Regions from separate parts of the Homo sapiens genome. Here region 2 is linked to region 1. A link means that fine-mapping ties the variant in region 1 to the expression of a gene that starts in the linked region. Tissue or cell type: whole blood. Region 1 holds a variant in brackets; the other region holds the start of a gene. All regions are shown on one strand. Distances are between the middles of the regions.

Evidence for each region. PIP is the estimated chance that this variant, and not a neighbour inherited with it, causes the effect.
Region 2: PAXIP1-AS2 starts here. The variant in region 1 is fine-mapped to the expression of PAXIP1-AS2 in whole blood (TOPMed, PIP 0.99).

What each region holds. Positions count from the first base shown.
Region 1 is chr7:155,009,158-155,017,263 of GRCh38, reverse strand. No RefSeq gene overlaps it. Among named protein-coding and RNA genes, the nearest start is that of PAXIP1-DT, 9.8 kb to the right of the region's middle. The variant C/TC (reference allele first, on the strand shown) is at 3,619.
Region 2 is chr7:154,924,933-154,933,038 of GRCh38, reverse strand. It overlaps PAXIP1-AS2 (PAXIP1 antisense RNA 2), which reads right to left and starts at 4,522. Exons shown (of 8, transcript NR_024476.1): 1 at 4,272-4,522; 2 at 4,015-4,083. RefSeq lists enhancers at 3,892-4,111, 4,262-4,361, 4,382-4,441.

The sequences.
Region 1 (8,106 bases):
GAGACGGGGTTTCACTATGTTGGCCAAGCTGGTCTCAAACTCCTGACCTCAAGTGATCCACCAGCTTCAGCCTCCCAGAGTGCTGGGATTACAGGCATGAGCCACCGTAGCTGGTCTGAGACCCCATTTCTACACAAAATGTAAAAAGTAGCCAGTGGTGTGTACCTGTGGTCCCATCTACTTGGGAGACTGAGGTGGGAAGGTCCCTTGGGTGCTGTGAAGTCGAGGCTGCAGTGAGCTGTGATGGCGCCACTGCACTTTCAGCCTGGGCAACAGAGCAAGACCCTGTCTTAAAAACAAAAACTTGTTTTAGTCTTGGAGGGGTTGGGAGTGGGGTGGTGGTGGTGATGCAATGGCAAAGTATTTTAGAATACAGTCTTTTTGATACTTTAAATATAAGTATTGGGATGAAGGCAAGCTCTCACATTTGAGGCTCCCTCCAGCCTTGTTTGTACTCCTTACCCTGAAAATGGTTCACAGCAGCACCACACCAGACATTATGTTGGGTGAGATGAACTCTCTCACATGTGGTTGAGTTAGTCATCCTTGATCCAAGCCAAAGAGCCGCCAGTTATATAATTCATTTATATTTATGTAAATCACAGTAGAAGAGACCAAAGAAATTCTTTCTCAAGGCATCAGAGATGTTTCATAAAATGGGACATCTAAGGTTGGCCATAGGAAGAGCAGGTGCGATTTGTGCAGGTGCATGAGTGCAGAGGGTTGCTGGTGATGGAACACAGCCATGGCTGCGGTGGGAAAGTTCTGGATGTGTTTGGAGAGTCAAGTGCTGTAGTCTAGTCTGCTAAGAGTGGGAGGACATGGGCCTAGTGTGCTCGGGCTACGGTGTACAAAGGTGGGGTGTATGGTGGAAAGCAACAGCTTAGAGAGTTCTCTGAAAGGCAGGCTAAGGTGACTGAACTTCAGTCTACAAGTGGTGGGAAACTATGGGACATTTTGGAACCAGAGCATTGAGTCAGCATTGTCTAGCTAGTACTTTTTTGGATATTGTGGAACTAGCAGCACTATTTTGCCTGCTATTATACACTGAATAGGGGCAGGCCAGGCACGGTGGCTCACGCCTGTAATCCCAGCACTTTGGGAGGCCGAGGCCGGCAGATCGCTTGAGGTCAGGAGTTTGAGACCAGCCTGGCCAACATGATGAGACCCCGTCTCTACTAAAAATACAAAAATTAGCCAGGCGTGGTGGCACGTGTCTGTACTCTCAGCTACGTGGGAGACTGAGGCAGGAGAATTGCTTGAACCCGGGAGGCGGAGGTTGCAGTGAGCCAAGATTGCAGCACTGCACTCCACCCTGAGTGACAGGGTGAGACCTTGTCTCAATAAAACAAAAAATAAAATAAAAATAAAATAAAATAAACAGAATAAGGGCAGATATTTTCCAAATGGAATCAAATGGAATACCAGTTTTTACTGTCTCAACTTCAGCCTGTAAATTTTTTTGATAGGAATTGAAAATAGTAGGATTCTAATTTATGAGAAATATGGACAGTCATTTCTTCATATAAAGCTTTTCCCCGAAGGTCTCCAATCTGCTTCTTTGTACATGTCTCCCGCGCTCCATCCCGCAACATCTTCCTCCAGGCAGGAGCTGACTGCTAGTCCTGCCAGCCCACCATGCTCATTCCCAAGCCCAGGCCTCTGCTCAGGCTTCTCTTCCACAGGGAACAGGCATCCTTCTCTTCCTGTTGATCTTCGAAGGTCTCTCAAGACCCCTCCTCTAAGACAACCTCCCAAAACATCCCTGTCTCCGTCGCATCTCACACTTTGTATTCCATTACTCTATGCAACTCACGTTGGCATTTGATATGCTGCTTACAGGCTGGAACTCAGTCACTCCATGGACGGGCCTTGACTGCAACACAAAGCCTATATGCAATGCACCTACGTGCTCAGTACAGGTTTGTTCAACTACAGTGGATTTCCTATCATCAGACCACTTCACTGGACTACATGCGTTGGGCTTGTGTTTTAAACCATACCAGTACCCAAGCTTTACTCACATAACCTCTTGATGGATCAGGGTCTCTCCCAGGTAGTGGTGCTGTGGATAAGGAGCAATGCAGAGACAGGGAGAAATGGGCAACAGTGTCCTCTCTCTGTCCGTGTCTGCCTGCAGAGTTCTGGCTGCTCAAATCTCCGTGCAGAGGCCCTTCTAAAGTGGGAAGAGAAGGCAAATTCAGCCATTTTGTAGATGCAGCCTCATTTTTGCTCTCGGAAAACACATCACTACATGAAAACATAGTTATCCACAAATTGTTTGTATTTATAAACATGAAATAACATGGCTTATTGATTTCCTCAAGCCATATAGCTGCTAGGCTTATCAATCTGTTATTTCTTCCCAAAATGTCATCCATTTAGTCCACCGGCAAGTCTGAGGAAAAACTAAATATTTTATTATGCCATTTATACCAGATGATAGTTTCAGAAGCTCTCCTTTTCATTATAATTATTTAGTATTATTTGATGCATCATGATTATTTTATTGTCTATAACTGAGATCATGTGACAGGGCTATTTCTTATAGAAGTCTATGTTCTAGGATGTATTTTATCCTTAAACAAAGGACATATCCATTGAGTTCAAATTGGACAGAAATTATGGAGTCTCAACTCAAGTTTTTACATGCATCATGGTTCAAAACAAGTAAGAAATACCTTTGCAAGTATCTGATATCTCACCTAAAATTCCCCTTAATCTGTCTTATTCCTGCCACTGATCATAAAACAATAAGTGTAAGACTTGGCAATATCCCCTCTTGTCATAAGCTTTCCAATTATTGAAAATTAAGTAACTCCCCATAGATGAGAAATCATTAAATATATAGTAAATAATGAGGTTAATTAATTTAACCCCTTCTAATTAGGAAACTAATTAAATCAGAAAATTAAAACTGACGCGAGACATTAAACATAAAATTGTCTCTTCCACTTCAACCACTTCCAAAAGAGAAATATGTATTAGCTACAAAAAATATAAATCTGTATACTCTTTTCAACCAAAATAAAGTTAGATTTTTCCGTAGTATAAATATTACTTTTAGAGAGTTTTCCTCTTTTCTATTTCTATTGTATATGAAATTAAAACTCTTTCCTTTCAATGTTTTTAAAGAATGAATTAGAATAAGTCTAAAAAGGAGAGCGTAACCCAGACTCTGCCAGTAACTGTGACAATGAGAAACTCACTTGAATTCCTTGGGCCTCACCTTTCTCAACCTTAGTGTAGTCTCTGAAAGAAGTGAGATTGACTCCCGTCATCTTGGAGACGGACACAGTGTTAAACAGGAGCAACAGACGAGGCAGTTAGAGTTAGAGAAGCTGTTAAAATCTTTTCAGGGTGTTATGATACAGAACTAGATCTTGGCTTGGGATCTTCATTAATTAGCTGGTGAAATGTCTGAGATAAATTAAAGAGATTTTGCAAACAAGCCCAATTCTCTCTTCAACCCCAAACTGTCATGCCTGTCAACATTATTTTTGGATATAAATTCCTAACCTCTGGGAAATGTCTCAGAACAACAACCAAATAAAGAAAAAGGTTGGGTTGCTTGGTGCCATTAAAAATAATTTTTCTTTTCTTTCTTTCTTTTTTTTT[C/TC]TTATTAAGACAGAGTCACTCTGTTGCCTAGGCTAGAAGTGCAGTAGTATGCTCTCGGTTCACTGCAACCTCCACCTCTTGGGTTTAAGTGATTATCGTGCCTCAGCCTCCCAAGTAGCTGGGATTACAGGCACTCACCACCACAACTGGCTAATTTTTGTATTTTTAGTAGAGACAGGTTTTCACCACGTTGGCCAGGCTGGTCTCGAACTCCTGACCTCAAACTATCCACCTGCCTTGGCCTCCCAAAGTGCTAGGATTACAGGTGTGAAAAAATGATTTTTCTAAGCTTGAAAATATCTAAGCAGGTATCCTGCCAGGAGTATTTTTTTACATTGTTCTCAGGCTCCATGCAACTGACAAGCACGTGGTGCACTCTGCGGGGTGGGAGTCGGTGAGCGAATACGGATTCCCAAAAGCCAGCGCCATAAATCATTTGCCAGCAGAGAATACCTTCGATAGACACTTGGTCTTGCTTACAGGAAGGTGAGTAGCCCCAATTTGCAGGGAATCTCCCAAATTTCAGGACTCTCTTACTTCAGTGTGTATTTCCTACACCTGGGACCTAGGAACTCCCACAGGAATTAAGTGTAGCCCATCTAATTAAGGTGTTGGAAAGCACCAGTAGAAGCAGATGGGGCACAATTTCTTCTCCAAAACTTGAATCCTTAATTCATTCATTTTTTAATTAGTGTAAACAAGTGTGTTCAATTGGCATGTTAATGCTGCTGGGTGTTTTTAATCAAATGACCAATACAATTTGTGACAACAGTTTTATTTTCACATGCTTCAAAGGCGATAAATGAAACAATAGAAGTCTTCAATCACCCTACAGGCTGGCCACTCCTGACTTAGAAAATTTTGTTATTTCCTAGATTAGTATTTTCGTTTTAGTCCTAGGACTTGTCCATCTCTATGCTAGACCTACAAAGGTTAGGTCTAAATCAACTGTTTTGTAAAAGAAGCCGTTCCTCTGTGTATACACGCCTCTTTCTGAGAAGATGCAGGTACGAGTCCCATGCTGGGCTGTCTCCCTGCTGGTTCACAGAATCTGAACAAGTACAGCTTCTAGATGCCACCTAATGATGTCAGTTAAGCTAGTGCTCAGTTGTGTGTGCAAAGTTACTGGGAGTAATTTAGCTGCCCCAGACAAATGTAGATAACACAGTGTGAAGAATCATTAACTTTAAAGAACCAGCAATTGGTAAACATATTAATGCTTTCTGGAAAACTATAGGGAATTACTTGCTGGGCAGATGACACAGTTCTGAATAATGAAAGTCCACTGTGATGTACTAGAAACCATGGCATTATCCTAACTCTTAAGATGCTCTCGGAGGACTGTGAACTGTGCCTTTAGCCACAACCAAAACCCAACCAAAGAAACAAGAGCCACAACACCACTTTTCCACTGCAGTCGCTTGTTGCGTGTTGTTCCCCACCATGGGTTGCTTTCCTGTAGGATTACAGTTCCTGCCCTGTTCACTGCGGGCTTCACCTTGTGACTTGCTTTGGCTCTGGCTTGGGTTCTCTGAATTGCCCCTCTCAGAGCAGGGCCTGAGCAAGGGCTTGTGTGCAAATTGTTTAACTGGGAAAGTGACCCCAGGGAGCAGGGGTGCAGGTGCAGGGGGTGAAACAGGGAGGGTGGGATGTGTGACCAAACTGGCCACCCAATGGGACTCAGTGCAAGATCAATGGGGCCTTTTCTGAGGAGCCTGGTGAAATGTCTCAAAAAATGGGGCAAAGAAAGGAAAGCTTTTACCCATGGGTTCTCACCCCGCAGTGATCAAGTAGCTTCACAAGCTAACTCCTCGAACCTCACCCTTGTGCCTGTGAGCACAGACTCATGAGATTCAGAAGTTTTGTGTAGCTGCAACGTAATTTATTGAAGTTTAACTGGTAGTGGCAGTTGAGGTGGGGAACCCTTCCCACATCCACCCACGGGGATGTCCGTAGCGCTCTGGACCAGTGACTGGGTCAGGCTGCATTCATTCTCCCTGTTCTCAATGGAGTGATCTTTCCCAGCTCCACCGCACGTCGGGGAAGACGGGCATCCATCTGTGACTAGACTGAGAGAAGACACATCTAGAGTTGCTGTAGAGGCCCCCATGAGTGCCTGCACTTTGGGCCTGATGCTATAATTGAGTGGAATTTTTGCAATTTCTTCTCAAAAGACACAGATGTGGAGTGCAGAAGGGACACACATTCACATTTGTGACTGAGAGGGAACATGGGTAGAACATACTGCTGTCCTCAGTTACCTGCTGTATTCCCAGGAAGAGGATGACATACCCCTGCCCACTCTGCCATGACCTGGAGTAACTTCCTGTGGCAGGAACAGATTCACTTCCACATTGACATCAGGTTTGGCAATGAGACTGACTTTCAAATGGAATGTGTGTGAATTCCAGAGAGAATTTTTATAGCTATTACGCGGTTCTGCCATTCTTCTTTCCCCTTGGTCACTAGAACTGCCTATGCCTTCTGCAGAGTTTCCAGAAAAAAGAGCAGCAGAGCCACGCCTGCCCAACACATGAGTGAGAAGCGAGCTTTGTTGAAGCCACTGAACTTTGGGAGTTAGTTCCCACAGCATAAGCTAGCAGGGAAAGCTTTTACCACTTGACGCACCCGGGCTTCAAATGACCACTGGATGTGTATATGCTAATAGGAAAAGAGAGAAAACGTAAAGAAACGAAAGTGAGGACTTGAAATAATTTTATCTTAATAGACTTATCACGCAGTTCTTGGGCACTCAACGTCAGTTACAAATCCTGGGGTCACTCTTAGGCTGTAACAATTTCTCGTTATTATAATTTTTAGCAGGGCACACATAGTACGCTGTTTGGCTTAAATCCACTCCAAACATGGGCCGACATCTTAATTTCTAGCTTCCTCTTGACTACCCTTCAGACATACTGAATGTTAGCTTGCTAGGGCTACTGTAACAAAGTGCCACATACTGGCAGCTTAAACAATAGACATTCATTCTCTCAGTTCTGGAGGCCAGAAATCGAAGATGAAGGTGGTGGCCAGGCTGTGCTTTCTCTGAAGGCGTTAGGGGAGAGGCGGTCCTGGCCTCTTCCAGCTTCTGGTGTCTGCCGCAACCTTGGTGTTCCTCAGCTTCTAGACACGTCACCCCAACCCTTGTCGCGGTCATCACTTGGCACTCTCCTGGGTGTCTGTGTTCAAATTTTCTTCTTCTTATATGAACACCAGTGACAGGATTTAGGTCCCATCCTCATCCAGTAGGACCTCATCTTAATGATGGGGGCAAAGACCCTACTTCCAAATAAGGTCACACTCACAGGTACCAGCGGTTAAAATCTGAGTTAAGATTCAATATGTCTTCTTGTTTACCCACAACATGAGTAAACAGTCAATCCCACAGCCAGCTTGTCACAAAGTACTTAACTTTAAATAGCTGGTAAGCAATTTTCTTTTCTGTTTTCACAGCCACAGAATTATGCTAAGTCTCAAATGCAACAACTTCCTCTGATGAGGTCTCAAGATCTTCATACGCTAGACACAGTCTATTATTTCTTATTACTCCCCATTTCTATCTTAAATCATCAGTTATTTAATATCCAAAATGTGCACCCTTTTATTTGGCAATATCAGTATTCTGGCCTCTTTTCAGTGGTTTCTCCTCTCCCTTCAAGAACTATTCCCCTCAGCCCGCTCCATCCAAGAGGTTTCCCCCAGCTATTCTGGCACATGGGAACCTCTTTTCTAAATCTCTGCTGCATTTCTACAGAATCCCACTAGTGTTAGGCTCGTGCATCCAAGTATTTGTTAGTTTTTTGAGAGCAGACACAATATTTTAAGAATTTCTCATTGTCCCTGTAAGAGTTTCCTGTCCATCACAACAGGGTCACCACTGGGGGCAGCACACTCAAATTACAATCATCTAAGAAGGTTTATCAAGGAACTACTTACAAAGGTGTAGGCAGGATGCATGGAGAGTGAAGGGACCTGTGGGGAGAAGCAGGTGAGCCCTCACCACCCTAGGTCCAAGGGATGAGAGGAAGGAAAGATTCCCAGGACCTGGAAGGAGAGAGTTGTATAGAATGGGCTCCTCTGCCAGCTCAAGGCAACCTGATGAGGAACCTGGGAAATAAACACCGTCATACCTCTCTCCTCCCTCCCCTCACTGCCCAGCTTTCTGCTGGGACTCCCCATTGACCAAATTCAACTAGAAGCCAATGTGCAAGGGATTCTACTTATATAATCTGCTCAGGTCAGCACCCAGGGGCGGAGAAAAAGGTGGAGCAGGATGGAGTACAGATCTGACATGGGGAGTGGGACAAATGGAAGGCATCTAACACATCCCTCACATGCCTCAGAGAACTACCTTGTGTTTGCTTTTTAAAAATAATGCTGTTTCTTTGTTGTTTGTTTTTGAGATAGACTCTCACTTTGTGGCCCAGACTGGCATGATCTCAGCTCACTGCAACCTCTGCCTCCCAGGTTCAAGCGATCCTTGTGGCT
Region 2 (8,106 bases), 84 kb after region 1:
TGCAGCAGCCTTGAAAAACAGCAGCCTTGGAACTGTGGTAGTAGTGAAAACCAACAGCCTAATGGACGGACTAGAGGGGCAGGACAGCTTCAGAGCCCCAAAAACCTCATTCCCAGAGAATCATCAATCTTTCTCCTGGGCTGGCAGCTCCTATTCAAGCCCCATTCACAAGGCTCACCTTTATTTGACCTGATTCAGATCTCCCAGTGAGGAAAGCCCCATCCCCAGGGTGTTTGTGAAAATCAATCAGCACTAACTGTTCAACATCCCAGCTGTCAAAAGTGGTGGTGCCACTTAGGGCAGATAAGAAATTGGATATAAAAGGCCGGGCATGGTGGCTCACACCTGTAATCCCAGCACTTTGGGAGGCCAAGGCGGGAGGATCACAAGGTCAGGAGTTCGAGACCATCCTGGCTAAAATGGTGAAACCCTGTCTCTACTAAAAATACAAAAAATTAGCCAGGCGTGGTGGTGGGCACATGTGGTCCCAGCTACTCGGGAGGCTGAGGCAGGAGAATGGCGTGAACCCAGGAGGTGGAGCTTACAGTGAGCCAAGATCGTGCCACTGCACTCCAGCCTGGGTGACAGAGCGAGACACCGTCTCAAAAAAAAAAAAAAAAAAGAAAGAAAAAAGAAATTGGATATAAAACTTACAAGGAAAGTCTAGGGACAGAGATATTCTTAGGGGCTTTGAAAAGCTCCAACTTATTCCTGGGGGATTAGAAGGCCTCCTGTGTGCACGGCTGCATGCAGGCCCAAGAGAGACCAGGAAGGCCCTAAGTACTTACTCCAGTGGCTCTTGAGGGTCTGATCAAGCAGGAGTGAAGACTAAGGTGGAGTTGTGAATTGCAGGGACATTGAAGACATACCCTAACAAACAGCCCATGAGCAAGGGGAGGCTTATTGGTTGAAGGCATTTAAGGAATTCTCTGTCCAATCATTAGCTGACCACTAAGCTAACCAAGTAAATACTTTAGTGGCTGCACACAAAAAAGAATACAGACTTTACAATACCAATCCAGAAACATCACTAAACAAATAAACCACCACCACAACAGCAATCACAAAAACAGCAACAACTCTAATTTCCAGAGTCGATATATTATTTAAAGTGTCTAGTTTTCAACCAAATAATTAGGAGACACACAAAAGAACAGGCAAGTATGGCCTATAAACATAAAAAAGTAGTCAAAAGAAATTGTCCCAGAGTAAGCCCAGATGTTGGACTTATTAGACAAAGACATTAAACCAGGTATCAAAAACATGTTCAAATAAAAGAACTATGTCTAAAAAAATTAATGGAAGATATGAAAGTTATTCCACACCAAATAGAAAAAAAATGTCATTTGGAAATTATGATGAACAATAAGAACATTTTGTTATATATATTCAATAATAAATCTATCTATCTATCTATGTATCTACCTACCTATCTATCTATCTATGTTGGACCAGCAATTCTATTTCCAACAAAAATGTGTACACATATTCATCCAAAGACATGCAGCAGCCCCAAACTAGAAACAATGTTAAATGTCCATCTACAGTAGAATGAAATAAATACTATTATAGTAATGCAATAAAATATTATAATAACAATAAAAAGAAATGAACCATTGGTACAAACCACAATACAGATGAATTCCACTGGGAGAATATCATACAAAGAAGTTAGACAGAAAGTAGAAATACATACAATATGACTTCATTTATATAAAGTCCAAAACAGGAGAAACCACTGACAATACAAATCAGAGTTTTAGTTACTTTTGGGGAGGAGTGTGAGATTAGTGACTAGTAAGGGTGCATACATAGTTTCTGGGATGCAGGCAATGTTTTCTTCACACAGTTGGTGGTTACATGCGTGTAGTCACTCTGTGATAGTTCATACAATGCTATAATGTGTATACTTTTGTTTGCTGTACTTCAATAAAGAGTTAGTTAAAACAACAACAAAACACTTCTGTTTCTAGTATCTCAGGAATTGGAAAATTATAGTCCCTGGGCCAAATCTGGCCACCTGCTATTTTTGGAAATAAAATGCTAATGCGACCCAGCCACACTCATTCATTTACAGATTGGCTATGGCAGCTTGCATGCCACTACAATGCAGCGTGGATTTCATGGCCTGCAAAGCCTGCAATATCTACTACCCAGCCCTTTACAGGAAAAGTTTGTCGATCAGTGCTCTAGCCAGGCCTTGCTCCCATTCTTCAAACTGGCTCTTTCAAGCCTTCGTTCTCAAACTCAAATGCCAATCAGACTTTTTTTTCTCCCAGCAATTTTGAATTAGGACACAGAAACTGACTGGGTTAGGTGTTGTAGAGAGCAAAGCTGGGAGGTCACATGAAATGGAGGGCTGAGGCTGCCATGCGTCAATAAACACGATAGGAGGTGTGCAGAGTCTCACGTGCAGAGAGGAAGGTGAGTCAGGCCTGCAGGGCACAGGCAGGAGACCAAGAGCTCTGCAAAGGTGCTGAGGAAATCAGAGCGGGGCATCCTCCCTCTGCTTTCCAGGACTTGGGAGGCTCAGTCCTCTATTCCTGCAGCTAGTGTCATGAGCTTTCCCCAGCACAAACCCCAAACCCTTATCTTTGTAGTTCTTCGAGTGGCACGCCTTGTTACTGATGATCGCTAAGAGGAACATGGTGTTCTTCAGGCTGGGGAGAGGGCTTGATGCATGGTACATGAGGAAGGCAGTGCTCTCCAGCCAACAATAAACAAAGAAAAATTAAAACATGGATGCTTTGGTTGCCAAGAAGAAATGAAAAAGTAACATTAAGATTCAAAGACTTTTTTTTCATATCAAGACCCTCAATAAAAACCAATTTCAGCCAGGCATGGTGGTGCGCACCTGTAGTCCAGCTACTCAGGAGGCTGAGGCAGGAGGTTCGCTTGAGCCCAGGAGTTTGAGTCCAGCTTGGGCAACAGAGTAAGACCTCTTCTCTAAAATAATGAAAAATCTAACAATGACATTTTGAAAACTTTCAGAATTATTTAATCTGATTAGCCTAATCTGTATATTGAGATTAGTAAAGGTAGGTTTTGTTTTGTTTTCCAATCAGGAATATCCTCGCCTCTCCGTCCCCCCTGTATATACCTGGGAGCCTGAGAATGTATTTTAGTGCTACCATGGGAGGAAGGAGAAAGAATGACTAAATGGTTCATAAAACCAAACAAACCCTGAAGGTTCACGCCATTCTGCCCAGTGGGCCCTGTGGAACTTCGTGGGGCTTGTGGTTTAGGCTTCAGAGCTTTGGGGCTTCTGGGGTTTCTGTCTATATTATTCCTGCCTGGATGACATAGTGAGGTCTTCACTGCTGGAGAAGGGAGGGCTGGTGGGCCAGAGGGGAGACCCTGCAGAGGTGTGCAGTGTCCTTCTCTGCTGTTCATCTCAACCCGCTGTGTTAGGAAACCAGGAGGAAGCCCTACCTGGAATGAAACAGGTGCCTAGAATGAAGAGGGTAAGGACAAGGTTTAAGACTGTGACACCTGTTGCTTAAGAGACGCATTTAGGAGTGTGGCATGTAGATCCCAAATGTCCGTTTTGTAAAAGTTGTTGTTATTGTTTCACTTTTGTTGTTGTTGTTTGTTTGTTTTGAGATAGAGTCTCACTCTGTTGCCCAGGCTGGAGTGCAGTGGTGCAATCACAGCTCCCTGCAGCCTCAACCACCTGGCTCAAGCACTCCTCCCACCTCAGTCTCCCGAGTAGGCGGGGCCACATGTGTGCACTGCCATTCCTGGCTAAGTTTTCTTTTAATTCTTTGTAGAGACAGGGTTTCCCTATGTTGCCCAGGCTGGTCTTGAACTCCTGGCTTCAAGCAATCCTCACACTTCAGCCTCCTAAAGTGCTGGGATTACAGGCGTAAGCCACCACGCCCAGCCTGTTGTTATTGCTTTGAAGGAGTTCAGGAAATGCCACCCCCATGGCACTTGGGAGTGCTGATCCCTGTGAGCTGAGGGCACTTGGGAATCAGCGGATGCAGGCAGAGGTTTCCTCTGAGCTCCCCTTACCTGCCTGAAGACGGATCCTCCAAAAGGAACTCAGCTGTCATGAATCGCCTCCCCAGGAATCTCGTCAATCTGGGAGGATTAACACAGATCACAGGAGAGGACACTGGAGGTGACATCAGCCCAGATGACTATCACCCGTTCTCCCGAAGGCGGCTCTGAGATGTTTACGACCTCAGAGACATTTCATCCACAGAGCAGCACAACCTTTACTCACCAGACAGTCCCTCCCCAGGCTCTCCCATCACTTGTGTTCTCACCTCCCCTGGAAGCCCCGGGAACTTCGAAGTAGGCTTCTGTGGACTCCTGCCACTTCATCAGTAGCTGGGGCCCTGGTACCAGCACAAACTGCTTGCATCCAACTGACTTCACCAGACATACGGGCGTCTTTGGTAAGACCGCTCTCAGGTTTTGAATCTCCCAGGTTTGGGCTGAGATTCAGATTTTATTTAAGTAAATGAATTTCATGCTCAGTGGGACTGATATTGAAGCCGCCATTTAGGGCTTTAAGGCAGGAGTTTCGCGTCATTTCTCTAAAGATTCTGCTATTGGCAGGTTTGTGGTTTCACTTTTCTATTAGGTTAAGTTTTCGTTCGTCTTACTTGCTCTTTTGTAACCTTTTCTCTCATTGGACATTTTACTTGCTCAAGTTTGTAACCTTTTCTCTCATTGGACATTTTTTTACTTGCTCAAGTTTGTAACCTTTTCTCTCATTTGACATTTGGTTAAAGAGAAAGCAGTTTTCTTTGTAAAAGGAGAAAGTGAATGTTTGTGGCTTAAGCCAAATTTGTGGCTTTAAACCAGCCAGGCTTTGGATCTTGGTTAACATTGAGATTTAAAGTTTCTTCCTGAGTCACCCAAAATTTGTAAAAGGTTGGAATGAGGACGTGATAAGCTGAAGACAAAAAGGACTCTTTCTCCCAGCTGAAAGGCACCTTAGGCAATGGAGGTAACACAAGGGTGTGGAAGCTCACAACAAACCCCAGAGAAGAACTCACAGGGAGAGCTGCTTAACCCCCGGGGCACACAACACACAAGGGGTTCGTCACCCAGTGCCTTGAACTCCCAGAAATGTCTGGGTTTCTCTGAGGTAGGTAAGAGGGAAGAAGCTACTTGTAGGTGATACCTCCAGGAATAATCCCTACTAAGCAGCACACTGGACCCCAAACACTTTTCCCTTTTAGCCTTTGGGCATTTTAAAAGAGAATCCAAATTATGAGCAATTATCCATCTATAACCAAGCCCTCATTAAGCAATGCACCTTTGGAAACTCCAGCGGGGTTTATGTACAAGACTTATGGCGCCACCTCCTGTCGATAGTTGGAGAAATGGTCTTATTTGACCTAAGAAGATCCTAAATTACAATGATCAAAGAGAATTATCTTTGAAATAGCTAGATTAGTTTATTTATATGCACAATTTTAAAAAGCCAGCTATGGAATCAAATAAAATAATTAAGAGAGTTACTTCCAATGGCACCCAGAAGCATCCAAAAGAGGTTTTGACAGAATTCTTCCCTTAGAGGAAGAAAATAAAAAGCACTCTAAAACCATTACTGAATTTTAAAAAACACTGAAATGTCTTCTTCTCTCCCTGCTCCCCTGTCTCTCTAAGCCTCCTTGTCAGAACTACCCAGCCCTGATTGACCTTCTCCTCCTCCTCCTCCTGCCCCTCCTCCTGCTCCCACTGGTTTGGCTCCATTTCATCCAGCATCTGGTAGAGGGGAACCTGCTTTATCAATCATGATCAAACTTACAGGCATAGTTAAAAGAATTCCTTGATCTTCACCAGGTTCCTATTGGTTTTGCTAGGAAATTTGAATTAAATATCCAAGCTTATGACCCTAGTTATTCTGACTTCTAGCAACAGATTCACATGTTAGTAGCAAAAATTAAAGCTAAAGGCTGGCTAGACAAAGCTCACTGGAGAAATCTGTTAGGGATCTTCATAAATGTTCAGAAGAGGACCATAGACAGGCTTGAAGAACAGCAAAGGCTTTGCATCAGGCTATCTCCTCAGTTTTTCAGAGTAGTCAACTGGAACAAAATACAATATCAACAAAATTCAGATGAGTCAGTAATATACTTTGAGGGCTGTGGAAAAAATTTTAAAGAATATTTAGTTTTATCCGAAGAAAGCTGTGCTAATCATCGAAATGATACTCGACTCCAGTTTAACAAATGAGTTAGATGAATTGGAACTAACAATGAAAAGACAAAGTTGGGCCACTTCTGATACTCATGATTTGGTCAGTCTCATTGACCGGTTATCTGATACCTTAACTGAAGAAGAAAGAGAGAGGGAAGCCAAACAAAAGAGCGAGGCTAATACAATTATGAATTTACAATTAAAACAACTATTCACACAATTTTGGCCTTCACAATACCCCTAGAAACTCCCTAATGGACCTAACCTTCCACTTTGCAATTTTTGCAAAAAGCATGATTACTTTCAAAAGAGTTGCCAAAAATGAAAAAGGAAAGAATGTTAACCAGTGGAGGCAGAAAAGAAAACAGGGGTGCTCCAAGGAACTTAAAGGGGCCTTTCATTTCCTCCTTACTAACACTGGGAGAAATAAAAATTATTATAAATGGAGAACTAACACAAGCACTTATTGACACTGGAGCCACATTATCTGGAATTAATCCCATCTTGGTACAAGGTCCCATTCCTTGCAGTAAACAAAGAATTCAAATGGTGGGCATCACAATCCTCCTGTATTGGCATACCAATCTCAGCCTGTAACCTTTCAACAGTGTTCGTTACAAGGAACTCATGCCCTCCTCTTTGTTCCATCAGACCCCATCCATTCAACAGGAAGAAACTGCTTAGAATTATGTGATACCCACATTTCTTTCTCTCAAAGGAAGGAAATATATTTAAAATTAGATTATAAAACTCAACTTTGAGACACAACAGATATTTTAATAAAATTTTCAAAATCTAATCCAATTGCAATCCATATTGCCATGAAAGACAATGAATTATTGCTTAATGAAGAATTACAAAATGTACTAAAGACAGTACTTGATCCATTGTGGTCAGTGTCCTCCATTGATATAGAAACTATCATCTCAGCTACTCCAATAAATATTTAAATATACCCATGGAAACATCTTCAAAATACAAGACAATACCCCTTGAGAACTAAAGCTCTAGGAGGGATAAAGCTTATAATGTCAGATTATATAGAAAGATGACTGTTCATTCCTTGTACAAGCCATTGTAATACCCCAATCCTCCTGGTAAGAAAACCAAATGTTAGAGAATGGAGGTTTGTACAAGACTTGAGAGCAATAAACAACATGGCAATCCCATGGCACCCTATACTGCACAAGCCTATGTTACTCACAGCCATTCCTTCTAATGTGGAATTCCTTACAGTCATAGACTTATGTAGTACATTCTTTAGCATTCTTGTAGACAAAAATAGCCAATTTCTCTTTGCCTTCACTTGGGAAAACAGACAATACACTGGGTCACACAGGCCTCCAAGGATATGCTGAAAGCCTGACTTACTTTTCAAAAATATTAAAAATAGGCCTCTCAGATGTTAATTTCCTGGAAATGCATACATTAATCCAGTAAATAAATGACTTCCATCTTGGAGAGCAAACAAGATGTTCTGTGAATGATGGGCTACATTTATTACAAAAGGCAGCCCTAAGAAAACAAAGTCTCTAAAGAGAAACTTCAATTTTGTCGAAGACAAGTGATATACTTAGGCCACCTAATATCCAAGGAAGGATGTTTTATTAATTCAGACAGACTAGAAAGGATCTCAGCTTTTTACAACCAAGAATGAAGAGATGGTTGAGTGGGATTTTAGGACTGGCAGGATATTGTAGAAATTGGATTCCAAATTTTTATTTAAAAGCCCAATCCTTATATGCCCTCCTTTTTGTTTTTAAGACAGAGTCTCACTTGGCTAATTTTTGTATTTTTACTTGAGACGGGGTTTCACCATGTTGGCCAGGCTAGTCTTGAACTCCCGACCTTCATTGATCCACCCATCTTGGCCTCCCAAAGTCCTGGGATTACAGGCATGAGCCACTGCGCCCACCTTCCTTATATGCCCTCTTAATAGAGAACTTT